Linked DNA regions of Homo sapiens. The protein of the gene in region 1 purifies or fractionates together with the protein of each later gene. This does not show direct contact. Each region holds a gene or a part of one and is shown in the gene's direction. Other genes may lie near its edges.

What was found.
Region 2: the proteins of EMC8 (region 1) and KLHL22 purify together in Homo sapiens (co-immunoprecipitation; 2 studies listed by IntAct). This does not show direct contact.
Region 3: the proteins of EMC8 (region 1) and ATP2A2 purify together in Homo sapiens (affinity purification with mass spectrometry; 2 studies listed by BioGRID and IntAct, with this or other methods). This does not show direct contact.

The regions. Positions count from the first base shown.
Region 1 is NC_000016.10:85,782,545-85,789,544, reverse strand, and holds part of EMC8 (ER membrane protein complex subunit 8), read left to right. Parts: intron 1-494; coding exon 495-571; intron 572-3,076; coding exon of another isoform or gene 3,077-3,174; exon of another isoform or gene 3,175-3,253; coding exon of another isoform or gene 3,254-3,288; exon of another isoform or gene 3,289-3,322; intron 3,323-7,000. UniProt on the Homo sapiens protein: Part of the endoplasmic reticulum membrane protein complex (EMC) that enables the energy-independent insertion into endoplasmic reticulum membranes of newly synthesized membrane proteins.
Region 2 is NC_000022.11:20,440,863-20,443,822, reverse strand, and holds the end of KLHL22 (kelch-like protein 22), read left to right. Parts: intron 1-619; exon of another isoform or gene 620-999; intron 1,000-1,384; coding exon 1,385-1,750; 3' UTR 1,751-2,304; downstream 2,305-2,960. UniProt on the Homo sapiens protein: Substrate-specific adapter of a BCR (BTB-CUL3-RBX1) E3 ubiquitin ligase complex required for chromosome alignment and localization of PLK1 at kinetochores.
Region 3 is NC_000012.12:110,277,235-110,284,411, forward strand, and holds the start of ATP2A2 (sarcoplasmic/endoplasmic reticulum calcium ATPase 2), read left to right. Parts: upstream 1-4,012; 5' UTR 4,013-4,555; coding exon 4,556-4,673; intron 4,674-5,369; coding exon 5,370-5,387; intron 5,388-5,478; coding exon 5,479-5,561; intron 5,562-7,177.

The DNA.
Region 1 (7,000 bases):
GCTGGGATTACAGGTGTGAGCCACTGTGCCTGGCCTAAAAGACTTGTTTTGAAAGAGACTGAGATTCCCTTCTGGCTCTGTTTCTATCTGGTTGTGCAAACTTAGAACCTCTCTAAGCTTTGTTTCCTTAACTATGAAGGATAATGATTTAAATAATTTTAAGCATTTCTAAAGCCCCAGTTCTTTATAGTATAAGAGAAGGTAGGTGAAGGTCATCTTCCCTCTGACTCTCTGCAGCACTGTACCAATCCAGTACCTGTAGACAAAGGGTCTTCTCGCTGGGACTGAGGAAGATAGTCATTCCTTATGTTCAAAGTCCTGCCCTTCCTGACCATTTTTTCCTGAGTCCTACCCTTTCTTCTGGGGTGTAGGGTATGAGGATTAAGATTCTGTCATGTCTTGTCCCAGCATGTGGCAGTGAGATCTGTGGTTTTTACGACTTGATATTTAAGGGAGAGTCATTCATCTTTTCCCAATTTTTGTTCCTCTTTCAGATTGATTCATGGTGCAAAGATCATAGCTACGTGATTGCTGGTTATTATCAAGCTAATGAGCGAGTAAAGGATGCCAGGTACGTGGATGCAGAACCCTCTGTGGGCGAGGAAGTGAGCACGTGTTGGGCAGACCCCGTCTCTCGTGTGCTTTTCGGCCAGATACGAAACCTGTGAGACCTACACCCCTTCCCTCTGTGCTTATTTGTAGTATTTGAGGCGAACTGTGGTGTGGATAATTCCAAACAACAGAAATTCCAAACATTTCTATTAACTTTGGAATTCTGTTTTGTGTCTTCTTTATTTTGCATGAAGGGAATTCATACAATGAAAGCGACAGTTGGCTTCCGACTTCTGTCCCTGCTCAGCTCTGCCTTGCTTCCCCTTCCCAGACTAGGGGTGGTGTTGGGCAGAGCACTGGGAAGGAATGTTGCTCTATTTGCCGGTAAATAGACCAGCCTGTAGGTTTGGGGTCAGTACTCTGATGAAAATGTGGTATTTGCTGCCCCCTTTATACTGGCTCCTTCTTTCTTTTCCTTTATCCAGATCCTTCCCCAACTGGGGCTCTCGCTAATAACAAAGCTGAGAATTTTTCTATATGTCTGCGTCATCTTGGTCCCAACAGAAAAACAGATGACACACTCAGGTGGTGATAATCTGAGGAGGGCTTAATAAGCAGGCTGTTGACAAGGCCTGGGCCGTAGATAACGCACAGGGGGTCGTGCTGTAAACAAGGCTGGCGACAACAGCCCAAAGGGTGGGGAGGAAGGAGCTGGGTAAACAAGTCCACCTTGAGAAAAGCAGTGCCCTTGGGCAGGTGGCCACAGCCAGCCTGACGTGGCCTCCCATTAGGGGAGAGGTGGCCCAGAGCAGTCAGTACATGATGTCCCCCTTCCATTTTCCTTTGGCTGAACCGAGCCAGAAGCCAGATGGGCAGCTGGAAAGTCCACGCCGTATATAACGGGCATGCGTCAGGCTGCCCTGACGTGGCTTCCTCATGTTGTCAGATAGAGCCGACCCTCCAGTGTCCAGGGAGATGGGGGTGCAGTGAAGGGCCCTGCCGTTGGGTCCACTTGCTCAGCACAGATGAGAAGGTGAGCTCAAGCACTTTGGAAATAATACAGTAAGCTGGTGACAGCATTGCTATCACTGATGAGGCACCAGTGTTTCTGATGAGAAACATGGTATCCTAAAAGAAACCCAAATTTAGAAACATAATTATCTTACCCTAGGAGGGCTGGGTCCAGGCACAGGATCCTGAGGGAGGCAGATGTCCTAGGAGATGCTGCACTCAAAGTCAGTCCGCTGAAGCCTCTGCCAAGGCGGTTGGGAGTGCGTGGAATCCCCATGCACATTGGCTCTTCTGCTGCTTCCTCTGAGCCCACGAGCAGCACTGGCCTCTCCGCCTTCAGCGCATCTCTTCTGACTCTCACTGGGATGTCCTCTGTTTGATATCGCCTGCCTCCCTTTGTTGATGAATCAGTGCCTCCCCTCTCAGTGCCTTCACTGAGCGAGAGCCTACCCACGGGGCCACATCCATCTTAGTCTTTGTTACATGAAAGACTAGGCGTGGGCTGAGGAAAGCGCAGCCCTCTGGCCCTTGCCCTCACGTGGCTGAGTTGAACATGAAGGACAGTGCAAACACAGGCTGTGGTGCAGGACAGCGGCCCCTGCAGGGGGCTTGGTGGCAGGGGCCGGGAGACTTAGACCTGGTAGGATGATCCCAGAAGTCCAGGGCATGGTGTCCTGTAAACCAGGCCCTCGAGAGTGAGCAGGGCCTTGTCAAGTGCAGACGTGGAGACCAGGAGGTCAGCATTCCTGGTTGGGGGGACAGCAGACACAGGTGAGGACGTGGCAAGGGCTGGGGCCGTGCCCACATGGAGGGAGATGCTAGGAAGTGAGGCTGCACAGGTAGGTTGGGCCACAGCTGAGGGCTCCTCTGTGCTCAGAAGCATTTTGAACTTCACCTTGCAAGCAGTGGGGAGCACCCTTGGCAGGAAGGTGTTCCTGGACCAAGCAGTGTCTGCCGTGGCTGTCCCTGCAGAAGGGAGAGGAGACTGGGCAAGTGGGAATGGCACCAGGTTGTCAGATGAGGGCAGGGGCCTCCCTTTCCTTAATCCCCCACCTGCAAATCCATGCCTGATGTGGTCGCCCCACATGGACCTGCGCAGGCTCTCCTATGCTCCTCTCTGCGCATGCCTCATCTGGCTCACAGCTCTCATGTTCTTACCTCTGTGCTGACCTCGTTACAGCCCAGCCTGGAATTATCCTACTCGGACACAGTTTTCCTGCTCTCCATACCTTCCTTCTAGAATGTCCTCCCTATCCTCACCTAGTCCACGTCCTTCTGCGTCCTCCAGGAGGTTTTGCAGTCCTTCATTAATACTGACTTTTAAATGCATCCGGAGCAGCCATTTGTCAGATGTGTAGAGAGGATAAACCTTAGCTAGGAGTCTGCCACCCTGGAATAGGGAATCCACCTCCCCCTCCCCCGCTGTGCCCAGTTGTTTGAGGAGGACACCTCAGGTAGGTAATGCCGTGCTATCCCTGGGCTCTATCGGGGTCATTTTATTTCATCCTCACAGCAATGCACAAGTGAAGAAACCAGCCGGAGAAGGTGGCTTCTCAGAGGCCACACAGCTTGGGAGCTCAGGAGCTAGGATCATGCCAACTTCTGACTTAAGTATGGTTTTGCTTCTGCCTGGAAAACCTTCCCCTCTCTTCAGCCAGACCTAGCTGAAAATTTGCTCTTCTTATTCTAGAAATATTGCCTCATTCACAGTGTCTTGCAGCATGATTTGGAGCCAAGTAGACCTGGATTCAAATTCTAGGTGACTTACTGATTAACCTCCTTGGGCCTCTGTGGCCCTGTCTGTAAAATGGAGCTGAGCTCATGCCTCAGAGAGTAGTCATGAGGACAGAATGAAATTGCGCAGTGTGTTTGTCCTTGTGCTTGGTTTACAGTAGTGGCTGGTGCTGTTACTAGTGCTGTGATGACTTTTTCTATTACTGTTCTAACGTAGTGTTTATAACTTTTATGAATTTCCTAAACTTTAGGTCATTCCATCAAGTTTTATTATATGATTCATTGTTGGCCAGTGTTTTGCTTCATAGTTAGCATTTGATATGAGTAGGTTTCGGTGCCCGGCAGAGAGCCCTGGCCTGAGGCAGACACTCAGGAGGAAGCTTTTAGATACACATTGTAAGATGGCACCTACACGCTGGCCCGACATGGTGCTGTTGAGGGTGAGCAGAGTGGTCTGCCTTCAGGGTGCCTGCAGTTTCAGTTGGCAGCTGGCTCTTCCTAGGAACAAGGAGTTCCTGACTAGCAGGAACCACAGCGTGGCAGTCTTCATTCAGGATCAAGTGGATCAGTATTGGAGATTCAGTGCCTAAGACAGAGAAATGCAAAGTTGGCAGCTGTTTCAAATACTTTGACAGTTCATTAACTACACATTTTTTTTTTGGCGGGGCGGTGGCAGAGCAGACAGAGTCTCACTCTGTCACCCAGGCTGGAGTGCAGTGGCACGATCTCGCCTCAATGCAACCTCCACCTCCTGGGTTCAAAGTATTCTGCTGTCTCAGGCTCCTGAGTAGCTGGAATTACAGGCACCTGCCACCACACCTGGCTAATTTTTGTATTTTTAGTAGAGACGGGGTTTCACCGTGTTGGCCAGGCTGGTCTCGAACTGCTGACCTCAAGTGATCCACCCACCTTAACCTCCCAAAGTGCTGGGATTACAGGCATGAGCCACCACACCCGGCCAACTACAAATTTTTAGACTTCTTTTAAAATAATAAATTTTAGGCCAGCCATGTTGGATCACACCTGTAATCCCAGCACTTTCAGAGGCCAAGGCAGGAGGATTTCTTGAGCCAGGTGTTCAAGACCAGTCTGGGCAACATAGCAAGACCTCATCTCTACAAAAAAATACAAAAATTAGCTGGACATGGTGGCCTACGCCTGTGGTCCCAGCTACAAGGGAGGCTGGGGTGGGAGATCACTTGAGCCTGGGCAGTTGGGGCTGCAGTGAGCCATGATCTCGCCACTGTACTCCAGCCTGGGCAACAGAGCAAGACCCCATCTCAAAAATCAGTGAATAGAAAGACAGATGTTAAGAGTTCTTGAGCATCTGCAATGGTAGTTTTTCTTTTTAATGAGTGTTTCCTTACCCTCTCCCCAATAAAAATCAACAACCAGCATGATCAGTGTTAAGTAGGAGGGTAAGGGCTTTGCAAGCTCTTCATGGCAAGCGGCCCTGCCTTTTGCTTTCCAAGTTCCTCAGCAAATGCAGGAGCAGGCAGAGGTGGGTACATGGGCAGGCCTCCTGAGGGCTCTGTACCCACTCTTCACCACTTGCCGTTAGTGCTGTGGGGACCTGGCGCCCACCGAGTCCTGGTCAGTGCAGTGAAGCACTGCCTTCCCTCTGCGCTAGGAGCCACCATCGCACTGCTTTCTTCAGTACGATTGGCTTCTACCTGAAAACCTCCCCTTCCCTCTTAAGTCATATTTTTCTTAACACAGTCACATTTTTAAGTCATATTTTTCTTAATACTGCAGATTTATAATCAGTACATCACTTTGTCAATTTTGAAAACGAAAATACAATAATCATATAAAATAATTTGTTTTTTAAAAACATTATTAATTTTTTTTAGCCTAATCACAAGGGAAGGATTGTAATTGTATATAGTGTGCTTTGTTAAATAACTCACAATAATGCATGTATTTTTATGGCTGTTAAAAGAAAGATGGGGCCAGGCGCGGTGGCTCACGCCTATATTCCCAGCACTTTGGGAGGCCATCGCGGGCAGATCACGAGGTCAGGAGATCGAGACCATCCTGGCTAACACGGTGAAACCCCATCTCTACTAAAAATACAAAAAATTAGCTGGGCGTGGTGGCGGGCGCCTGTAGTCCCAGCTACTTGGGAGGCTGAGGCAGGAGAATGGCGTGAACCCGGGAGGCAGAGCTTGCAGTGAGCCGAGATCGCGCCACTGCACTCCAGCCTAGGCGACAGAGTGAGACTCCATCTCAAAAAAAGAAAAAAAAAGAAAGATGGATGGCTTGGTCCCTGCCACAAAAAGCTGAAAGCCTTGATTGTGCAGGGCAGACAGGATGCACAGAAGGAAAGCAGCACGTGCCATGGACTCTGTGTTAGAGCCTCTTAGAAATAAATCCTCAGAACTCCAGCAGGGCAGGGGGTCTCATCCAGGGTTTAGCAGGGCTTTGTGGTGAGGGTGGCATGTCTTCTGGGCACTGAAAGAGGGGAAGCAATTCAGTAAGGAGGCCTTGGTGTGGAGGGCCAGACGGGACAGTGTGAGTGAAACAAGACGGGCATGTGAGGCAGATGACATGTAGGCAGATTTCCTGACATTGAAGACACAGCATTGCCCCTGTGGCTGCACACGGTAGCTCAGTTCACCGTAACGAAGGCCTGCCTCTGCCAGCCTGAGAATAGCAGCCTTCATCTTGCAGGCAGTGGTGAGCAGTAGTCTGTGGGGCTGTGAGCACCAGGGGACGTGATGGAAGTTCTGTTTTAGGAAAATTTAGTTCAGGAGAATTTTCAGGTTACATCGGATAAGAAGAGCCTAAGCTGAGCTTCGTAGCACGTGCCTGTGGTCCCAGCTGCTTGTGAGGCTGAGCAGGAAGGATTGATTGAGACCCGGAGTTTGTGGCCATGATCACACCTGTGAATAGCCACCATGCTCCAGCCTGGGCAACGAAGCGAGACTCTGTCTCTTTTTTTTTTGACGTGGAGTCTCACTGTTGCCCAGGCTGGAGTACAGTGGCATGATCTCAGCTCACTGCCACCCCCGCCTCCCGGGTTCAAGCGATTCTCCTGCCTCAGCCTCCGGAGTAGCTGGGTCTACAGATGTGCATCACCACACCCAGCTAGTTTTTATATTTTTAGTAGAGACAGGGTTTCACCATGTTGGCCAGGCTGGTCTCGAACTCCTGACCTCATCAGGTGATCCACCTGCCTCGGCCTCCGAAAGTGCAGGGATTACAGGCGTGAGCCACTGCACCCAGCCGACCCTGTCTCTTTAAAAAAGAGAGCGAGCGAGTGACCGTAGAAATTATGAGACCGGTTAGGAAGCAGTTTTAGAAGCCCCTGCCTAAGGTGAGAGACTGAAGGAAATAAATGACAGGGAGAATGCAGGAAAGGAGGGCAGAGAAAGGACCTGTGGCCTGCAGGGTGGGGAAGAGCAGAGGGAAAGGTGGCCTCAGGTCGGAGAGGCTGGAAATGGACTGGCCTGCCTGAGAGTGGTGGGTTCCCGCTGGGAGGCTTTTGAGGGGGTAGCAGTCTTGGGGCCATCAGGCAGTGGTCAGGAGACTTCCGGAGTGCTGCTCTGCAAGGGAATGGGTTAGATGGCAGATTGCACAGAGCTGTGGTGAGGACATGGAGCAAGACTAGCGGCTTGTTAAAGAAGTTGAAGAAACAGTCATGGAAGGGAGGAGGGAAGCTGGACAGCAGCTAGAGGGAACCGGTTCAATGCTTTTGTTT
Region 2 (2,960 bases), on another chromosome or scaffold:
ACGCACCTCAGCCTCCCAAAGTGCTAGGATTACAGGCGTGAGCCACCACCCCCGGCCTCCCCTTCCACTTTTTTTGTTTGTTTGTTTGAGACAGAGTCTCGCTCTGTCGCCAGGCTGGAGTGCAGTGGTGCTCTTGGCTCACTGCACCCTTTGCCTCCTGGGTTCAAGTGATTCTCCTGCCTCAGCCTCCCGAGTAGCTGGGGTTACAGGCATGTGCCACCATGCCCAGCTGATTTTTGTATTTTTAGTAGAGACGAGGTTTCACCATGTTGGCCAGGATGGTCTTGATCTCTTGACCTTGTGATCAGCCCGCCTTGGCCTCCCAAAGTGCTGGGATTACAGGCGTGAGCCACCACGCCCGGCCTCTCCCCTTCCACTTTTAAGGGCTCATGCAATTGGATGGATCACCTGGAAAATCCAGGAAAACTGCCCCATCTCAGGGTCTGCACCCTTAATCCTTTTTTTTTTTGTATTCTTGTACCCTTGATCCTATCTGCAAAGCCCCTTTGGCTGCTTAAGGTAGCATATTCTGGAGATTAGGAACTAGACATCTTTGGGGGCCACTATTCTGCCCACCATAGCTAGAGAACCAAAAACGGCTAATCAGTCAAGAAGGTAAGATTTTTATGGCTCTTAATACTTATTGCCAAATTCCTTTTCTGGCATGTCAGACAGATACATAGTAGTATGGCTTTACCACACCCTCAACAGCATTGGGTTTTGTGATTTTCCTTCTCTGCAGTGGTTGCTAGTTGAAAAATTTGTCTCTGATGTTTTGATTTTGCGTTTCTTGAATTACTAGTAGGTTGAACATTTTTCCATGTCTTTGTTTACTGTTTGGACAATTTTGAAGACAAGAGAATATTGATGTTGACTACTCCGCAAGGAATTACTTCCACTTTCTGTCTCCTCCCCCTGTCCTACTGCCTGTGTTGAGTGCTGCAGAAGGAGGTTGAAGACATTTCAGTGGAGTCCATGTCTCTCAGGCAGCTTCGTTTCCTGGAGGGGAGAGAAGCAGTGCCCTCAGACATGGGGAATGACCACATGCTGATGGGGGCACAGCCACACACTCGGGGGCAGAGACTGGCTTAGGGCCGGGTGGCCTAGAGGAAGGGCTGGGCTGGAGCAAAGCCAGAGAGAATAGGATCATTCTAGGGGAGGGCCCAAAAGACAGCCTCCTGCAGACTCGGCCATCCCTGGGTGAGAAAGCAGCAGCCTGGCCCATGGACAGGATGTTTCAACACTGGCCCTGTGCCATCCTTCCAGGGGGCCTGACCTGTCAGAATGGTGGGTAACTGTTGCCACCTTGGTCAGTGGGCTTGTGGGGGAGCTGGCAGCCTCGTCCCAGTGGGTGCTGGGCTTTATTCTAGCCTTGGCTTTGCAGGTGGCCTGCTACAGCTGCACGTCTGGACAGTGGTCATCTGTCTGCCCACTCCCTGCTGGGCACGGTGAGCCTGGCATTGCTGTGCTGGACAACAGGATCTATGTGTTAGGTGGCCGCTCACACAACCGCGGCAGCCGCACAGGCTACGTGCACATTTACGATGTGGAGAAGGACTGCTGGGAGGAAGGGCCCCAGCTGGACAACTCCATCTCAGGCCTGGCGGCCTGTGTGCTCACCCTGCCCCGCTCCCTGCTCCTTGAGCCGCCCCGCGGGACCCCTGACCGCAGCCAGGCCGACCCGGACTTTGCCTCTGAGGTGATGAGTGTGTCTGACTGGGAGGAGTTTGACAACTCCAGTGAGGACTAGGCTCCCTGTGCCTGGCATCAGAGGGAAGGGAGGCTGGGGCTGCAGGGCAGTGAAACCCACGCAGCCTAGGCCAGAGCACTTTACTCCAGGCAGGGCCCCTGCCCCTGTTGGCCACAGCTTATGGGCCCTGCCCTCTTTCTTCACACCAGCCCCTTGGCCAGCCTGCCGCAGGCATCTCAGGGCCATGCAGATCCCAGGCTGTGGATTACGTCACTGCAGGAACTGCTTCTGAAAGGCTTTGGCCTTCCTCAGTGAGCCCTGGAGGGGTTGGCCTTCTCTCCTCCCTGCCTAGATCAGTCCTTCTCCAAAAGGACCTGGGAGCTGGCAGCCTGGGCAGGGGGGCTGAGGCACGTGGTAGCCCTCTTTCTGTGAATGGGGTGGGGCTGTGGGGGCAGCTGGGGTTGGAGGATGAGAGCTCCTGAGGGGCAGAGGAGCAGAGATGCATCAGCTCGCCTGGGACTGGCTCTGTGATAAAAAGACCCCTCCCGCTGGGTTTTCAGACCCCATGTTGTTGGTCAATGAAATAAAGCATCTTACAGAAGGTGTTAACTGTTTTTCTGTAGCCACAGCCTCAGTTCCTTTCCACAGTGCACCCAAGCTGCGTCCCCAGGAAGCGTGGCTTCTGGGGTCAGAGCTGCCATCTGGGAGAGGCTGTGGAAGCCCAGGCCAGAAGCCAAGTGGCACTGGGAAGACCCTGCCTGAGAGGGAAGCACAGTAAACTCCACAAGCTAACAGGGCACTCAGTGGGAAAGCTGGAACTCGCCCTGGTCTGGTGACAGGTGGTTGTGCAGCCACTTGAGTGTCTTCTCTGGTGTGGAACTTGTCTCCCAACCAGGGCAGCACGCAGAGTTTCAGCCCAGCTCGTTAGGAGTCTCTCAGCCTGAGGGTCAGGGAACCAGAGCTTCAGCACCTGGGAGCGGGGCAGCATCAGGGGGTCGGTGGGGGGGGCCCCTCTGGCCTGTGCCCGGCTCCTCCCAACCTCCTGAAGCTGAGTGTGCTGGGGAGGGGAGCTGCATGTGCTACAGGTTTGCCAGGTAACCCTTAGGCACCCAGTCTCAAGGACCACACTGGCACAGCAGCTGGGACCCTCCCCTGTTCACCTGTCCCCATGCTTTTCTTGCCCTCTTGAGACTGCCAGGCTTAGCCTGCACCCTGCATGGATGGGCTGTGAGCCCACACCAGCCTCACTGCAGGGCTGCACCACACGAAG
Region 3 (7,177 bases), on another chromosome or scaffold:
TTGTCACCCAGGCCAGAGTGCAATGGCACAATCTCGGCTCACTGCAACCCCTGCCTCCCGGGTTCAAGCAATTCTTCCGCCTCAGCCTCCAGAGTAGCTGGGATTACAGGTGCATGCCACCATGCCTGGCTAATTTTTGTATTTTTTTTTTTTAGTAGAGATGGGGTTTCACCATGTTGGCCAGGCTGGTCTCGAACTCCTGACCTTGTGATCTGCCCGCCTTGTCCTCCCAAAGTGCTGGGATTACAGGCGTGAGCCGCCGTGCCCGGCTGAGAAGAGACTTTTTAACACAGTAGATAGCTTGAAATACTCAAAGGGATCTCACACCAAAGAGGGATGAAATTCATTTGGAATGGTTCCAGAGAGCTAAACAAGATCCAATGTATAGATGAAGTTAGCCAATGGGAGGTGGATCCAGCCTAGAATGAGACTGCTTTAATGATTAGAGCTGTCCAAATACAGAATGGACTGCCTTTTACAATCTCCACTGCTTTACAAGGAGCTGTAGAGCATTGGGAAGTTGGCTGGGGCCTCTTTTACAAGTCACTTATTTCCACTGTCCATTTCTGTCTAACTTGCTTTTTAAACCAGCTTGCCTTTTAGCAGCTAATGTCCTCCTTTATTAATGCCTTTGAAGTTCTTTAATCAAATCATCCATCTTTCTGAATCACAGTTTCTGTTTTCTCTCCCTGTCCTCAATTGATTGAATGTACCTGCAATCCTTGCTGAAAAATAGAGTATTTCTAAAACCTATTCTTACTTTTAAAAACCCTTCTTAACAAGAAGCAAGTACAACACGATGCATAAAATAAATTAAGCACAAGTTTATTTCTACATGAGAGAAACTAGATATTTCTGCCTTTGGGAGACTGCGTTTCTGATAAATTTTGGCAACCCATCAACAACAGCTTTCAGAGACACCAGCAGGTTGAGGAACCAAGAGCATAATTGTTATGATGATGTCTAAGGGGGCCAATTCTGGGCTTAAAATCACACTGTTTCAGCTTAAGAGAGTATTCCAGCCTCCAGTAAATAGAAAGCTTGCAGAGAACAGTCTAGGAGGGCAATGGCAACGTGGTAACAGTACCAATGTGAACTTGAACCTTCCTTCTTTCTGAGAAACCTGTAATGCTGTCTAGCTTTGTTTTTGTCTGTTTGTTTTAAACTGACTACACTTCACAGTCATTCTCATGAGGCAGGTAGTTCAGAGAGGCCCTCTAGTTTATTTCACAAATTGGAAATCAATGAACTTGAGTTCACTGAAAATTTGCTGAGGCCTTCCTATGGGGGAGGCCCTTTGCAAGTCACTTATGGGCTAGGGATGGTGGGACTAATTCATTCATTCAAACAGCAGGCATTTAATAAATGAGGAGCATAGACTAGGGACTGTTCTTTGTACTGAGGATGGACAAGATGGACAGGCCCTGTTCTTATGGAGCTTCTGTCCTAGAGCTCCATGAGACACTAGGAGACAAGCAGTTAACAGCTAAACCAAAATACAACATCACAAGTAAGCACTGTGAAGAAAACTGACCGGGCACGGTGGCTCATGCCTGTAATCCCAGCACTTTGGGAGGCCGAGGCAGGCAGATTACCTGAGGTCAGTTCGAAGCCAGCCTGGCCAACATGGTGAAACCCCATCTCTACTAAAAATACAAAAATGAGGCAGGCATGGTGGCGTGCACCTGTAGTCCCAGCTACTTGGGAGGCGGAGGCACAAGAACTGCTTGAACCCAGGAGGCCGAGGTTGTGGTGAGCTGGGATTGTGCTGCTGTCCTCCAGCCTGGGTGACAGAGAGAGACTCTGTCTCAAAGGAAAAAAAAGAAGAAAAGAAAACTGAAAAATGTGATGGAAGGTGAATTGCCGAGAGTAGCCACTTTTTAATTTATTTATTATTTAATTTTTTTTTTGAGACAAGGTCTCACTCTGTTGTTGCTCAGGCTGGAGTGCAGTGGCGTGATCACAGATCACTGCAGTCTTGACCTCCTGGGTTCAAGCGATCCTCTCTCTTTAGCCTCCTGAGTAGCTGGGACTAAAGGTTCAGGCCACCACGCCCAGCTAATTTTTTTCTTTTTTTTTTTTAGTAGAGATGGAGTCTCGCTATATTGCCCAGGCTGGTCTCAAACTCCTGGGCTCAAGGGATCCTCCTGCCTCAGCCTCCCAAAATGCTGGGATTACAGACGTGAGCCACTGTGGCTGGGTAGCCACTTTAGACAGCAAAGACATCTCTGAGGAGGGGACATGTAAGCTGCGATCTGAATGGAAAGAGAACGACACAAGTGAAGAAGATCTGTGGGAAGAGCATTCCATACAAAGGCTGAGGTCAGGAACTCCTCCAGAAGCTCATAATTGCACCAGAGGTGCTTACAACCCCAAGCAGTGACAGTGGCACAGAATATTCAACATCAAATGCCTAAGCTAATTTCCAGGCTGAGAAAGGTAAACCATCCTTCTCCTGCCTGCAGTGCTTCTATCGGTCCTGAAAGAGACAGAGGAGGTAAGGGAGAAGAATTGGTACGAAATGGTGCAGAGCTGGTCTCAGAGGGCAACAACAGCCAGCCCTCCATGACCACACTCCCACCGTGCACTCACGTGCCCCTCTTGAAGCGGCTCTGATCCTGTGACCTAACCAGTTTCCACCTGGCTTCTCTCAGTGCGTTGCCATATAGTATAATTTTTTGTTTGTTTGTTTCGTGTAGGGTTTTGTTGGTTCTTTTCCAAGTATCAATCAAAACTACATGCCAACGTCCACTCCTTGGAAATAATTAAATGACATGACGTGCCTGATTTTTTCAGCTGGTGATGCACTGTAATTTGCATCTGCTGAAGGAATTTATCTTAAGTCCTGAAGCCCAGCCACTTGAGACAACTGAGGTGATTTTTCTGCTCTGCTTTTGCTCATGCGGATGGTGCGTTATTGTTAAACACAAAAGTGGACTAATTGCTTCATTCTGCAACCTACTCCGTGAAGAAAGCTGCTCTTCTTTGTGAAGAGAATATGTTCATGTTTTGTTCATGAATTCCATGCAATTTCCCATCCCCTTGTTAAGTAATGTAGCTTCTTTATATTGGCAAAATTCCCTTTATCTTGCTGTGACCTGCGCTTTGTCCTCCCGAGCAGAGCAAATCATCTGTGGTTTAAGAGCAGCTTTGGATTCAAGTCCCCTTTTCTCCTGTCGAGGGAAGTGAGTCTATGAAATGGCCTTCATCTGAAAGCCACAGCGAAGCACCTCCTAGCCCAAGTCTAGCTGCTGTGTGGCAGCTCCAGCGGCGTGAACTGTGACTGCCCTGCAGACACCTATCAAGCGCTGCGTCAGCTATTAATAATAAAATCAACTCTTCTCCCTCCCCCCCGCGAGGGGGGTTCCCTCGTCAGGGCCCAGAACCCGCTGGGGAAGAATCGGGGCTGGCGTGCGAAGGAGCTGGCGGCAGGGGGTGTAGGATGCGGTGTTCCCGAGGCGACAGATGAAGGATTTGGGTTGTGTGGGAAGTGAACTGCGGAATTCCTCCCCTTGGTTTCTGAGGGGGGCTCTGAAGGAGCCAGATTAGGATGCAGAGCGCAGCCCGGGCGACCGAGGGCGAGGAGGCGAGCCAAGGACATCAGCCCGAGGGCGCCTCGAGACGCCCCGCGTGGACCGCGCTCCCAGCTCCTCGGCCTCGCCTTCCAACCATCCGCCCACCGGCCCCAGAGCAGCGTGCCCACTGTGAGCGCCCCACCCTGCGTCTGCAGGTGGGTGGGTCAGAGAACCGCAGGCACAGAAGAGGGTACCCAGCTTCCCCTCCGCCAGCCCCGCGACCGCGGCGCGCGCGGCCTCGATCCGGGTTCCTAGGGGCGGCGCGCGGGAGGGGGCGGGGCCTGCGCGGCAGCGTGGGCGCCAGGCGCGCGGGAGGAGGGAGCCGGGAGGAGGGGGCGGGGCCGCGCCGCCCGCGCCGCGCTGGGCGCTCTCGGCCAATGAGCGGCGTCCACATGCCGCGGCGGCGGCGAAAGGGGAGGCAGCGGCCGATAAATGCTATTAGAGCAGCCGCCGCGGAGCCGTCCCCGACGCCACCTCCTTTTCCTTCGCCGCAGTTTCCTCCGCCGCTGTCGGGCGTGCGGCGCTGAGGGACCCGGGCGAGCGCGCCGCGCACCGCCCCGCCGGCTCGCCTCCCTCGCCGCGTTCCGCCCTCAGTGGTCTGCCGGGCGCCCCCTCCTCCGGCCCGGGCGGGGCCTCTGATCGCCTCAAGAGAGCGGGGAGGGGGCTCGGGGGCCGCGGCCTGCCCTCCCGGCGGGCGGCTGAGGGCGAGGGAGGCCCTCCCTTCTGGCGAGGGGAGGGAGGGTGGGTCAGGAGCCCCCAACCCGCCCTGCGGAGCTCGGGGCCGCGCGAGGGGCGGTTGTCTGGGGGAGGGGGCGCGGGGTGATTCAGCGCCCGGCGAGGCGGAAGCGGCCGCAAGAGGAGGAGGGGAGAGCCCGTCCGCGCCTGGGCTCCCGGGGTGGCACGAGCCCGCGGCCGGAGTGCGAGGCGGAGGCGAGGAGGCCGCGGGGACGGGAGGCGAGGCCGGCCGGGCCCCCGAAGCCATGGAGAACGCGCACACCAAGACGGTGGAGGAGGTGCTGGGCCACTTCGGCGTCAACGAGAGTACGGGGCTGAGCCTGGAACAGGTCAAGAAGCTTAAGGAGAGATGGGGCTCCAACGGTAGGTGCAGGGCGCTCCGCTGCAGGGGCCCGGCGCGGCCGGGAGAGCCAGGGAAGATGGCTGACCGGGCTCCACCTCGTGGGCTTCGGCTCCGCGCCCGCCGACAGCTGCGGGCGGAGGGTCGGGCCAGCGCGCCGGCCCCGCGGGAGAGAAAGGGGCTGCGGTCCTCGCCTCGCCTTCCCTGGACCTCTTCGCTTCTCGGGCCCTCGACCTTTTCGGCGCGCAAGGCTCGGAGGCTTCTCTCCAGCAGCAGCCGGCCCCGGTGGAGGGAGGGACGTGGCTTCTGCAGCTAGGTTGAGCCCGGCAAGACGTTTTCTCGTCCCCTGCCGATTTATGAGGAGTCGAGGTCGTTGGAAGGCCTCTGACCGTTCTTGTCCTACCCAAAGTTACACATCTGGCAGAAGTGATGACATCGCTGAAACCACTCCTAGGTTCAGGAGCCCGAAGTGATTTCACGCTTAGGGCTAGACCTCAGGCCATTGATTACAAAGAGTGCATGCTTCCTTGAGATATCTTCGTGGTATGCCCTCTGCTAAAAAAATCGGATATTCTTATAGCTAGGTCTGTGTTTTAAAGATATTGATGCTTAGAATTGTAGCAGTTCTTTTTAGAAAAACGAAGTGCTAAAATGTCTCTCTCTTTTTTTTTTTAACCTCCCTCTTGACACATTGCTTGACGAATTTCTACATTCTACAGAGTTACCGGCTGAAGAAGGTAATCTTAACATGCTGTTTCTGTTTTTTTTCCTCTGTTGGTGTGCTGATGGTAAGATGACAGTTAAAACACATGTGTTTGTTTCTTACAGGAAAAACCTTGCTGGAACTTGTGATTGAGCAGTTTGAAGACTTGCTAGTTAGGATTTTATTACTGGCAGCATGTATATCTTTTGTAAGTATAAAAAAATTTATTTTCTTTCCCCCCAAAAGCTGAAAGTATTCCATAGATAAATCAGAAAACAAATGATGTCCATTGGGTGAAAACATATTTGGAGTTGCAAGCTGTGTCTCTATGTTTAAAAACAATCTGGGCATTTTAAAATTACAAAACAAAACACTTGAAGCCATTGGTATTCAGAAAATAGATGCCTGACATTTACAGTGTGGTTAGGAGTTGTCCCAGAGTGTGGCATGGTCTTAGAAATTCTTGTGGTTTATCAGCTTTTAATATCAAAAAGTTCTTTTCTGGGAAGCCTTTAATGTTTTGGGTTCTTCCATTGTTATCGTGTTGTAAGATCATACTAAGATGATGTTGGACTCTTTGTAGTCTGTAAATAGAACTTACAAAAGGAATATTCCAGTTGCTTTCCCTTCCTGGTAATGGCAAGGTGACAGTTGTTCCTGACGGTGACAAGAATGATGACGGCTGTGATGGCACCCTTGTTGACCAAATTTGGTCACTGACCTTTAGGGTGGTATATTTATCTAAATTGGACCCCTGTCTTAAGTGATTCTTAGGTTGAAAGAACAAGGTTTAGTACAGTTGGTTCTAGATCTTAAAGGAAAAAAACCAGCATGGTGTTTTTTCTTGTTCTGTGTGTGCTTACCCACTTGAGTGCTATATGGTTGCTAAGAAACTAGTGAAATGCAAAGAACTACAGCAGAAAAAGGGTGTTGGGGTGGCAAGTATATTTCTAGGTTTTTAACTTTTTTTTAAATGTTCGGTATTAATTTTTTGTTGCATTTTTTTTCTTGGGCAGTAGATTGCTTGCTAGTTTTCCTAAAAATGGTCAGGAATAGGACACAGATGTTCCTAATTCTAATAGCATGAGATGCCTTTTATTCTTGAATTACGTTATTCTTACAAAAACCACGATAAGTGAAATTCACCCAGTGCAGTACTTCTTTCTAGTTAAAACAAAATTGACAAAACTTCACGGTTTCAGTTCTTGTACATATATGTATGCAGGTCCCAGGGATCAGCCTCAGTCTTTGTGAGAACCATACCATAGAGGGCTATTTTGAGAACGAAATAAACAAAGCAGTGGGCATTTATTTAGTTCAGATGAGGAAAAGATTAAATTTATACCCATCTTTTAAGTAGATAGTGGCAGCAGTAAATAAATTTGTGGAATAATTTTTACATAAATCCTGCTATGATACTTTATTATGCCATATTAGCCAAGTATTGTGTAGCCATTAATAATTCAGTCCCCAAGAACCTTTTCTGTGGTTTTCATTGATTAAAATGGGGACTTACATAGCAAACCATTCAGCATTCTGAGTCAGTCACAATGTACCTCTGATAAAATGTTTCTTCTTGATTGATTAAAAAATTTTCCCCCAGAAAATGGCTGCTGTTTTACCAATTAAGGGAAATGAGTAGACCCGATTAACTATAGTTTATCAATACATTGTCATGGGGCAAAATAAATGATACATTTGGAGCTAGTGTAAGATTTGTATTTAACTGGGTACATAATAGCGTTGGCAGTTAAATAATGGGGTCCGATAAGGTCATTGGGAACTTCTTAAAAATTAATCAGCTGACTACAAGCCAGAAGCAAA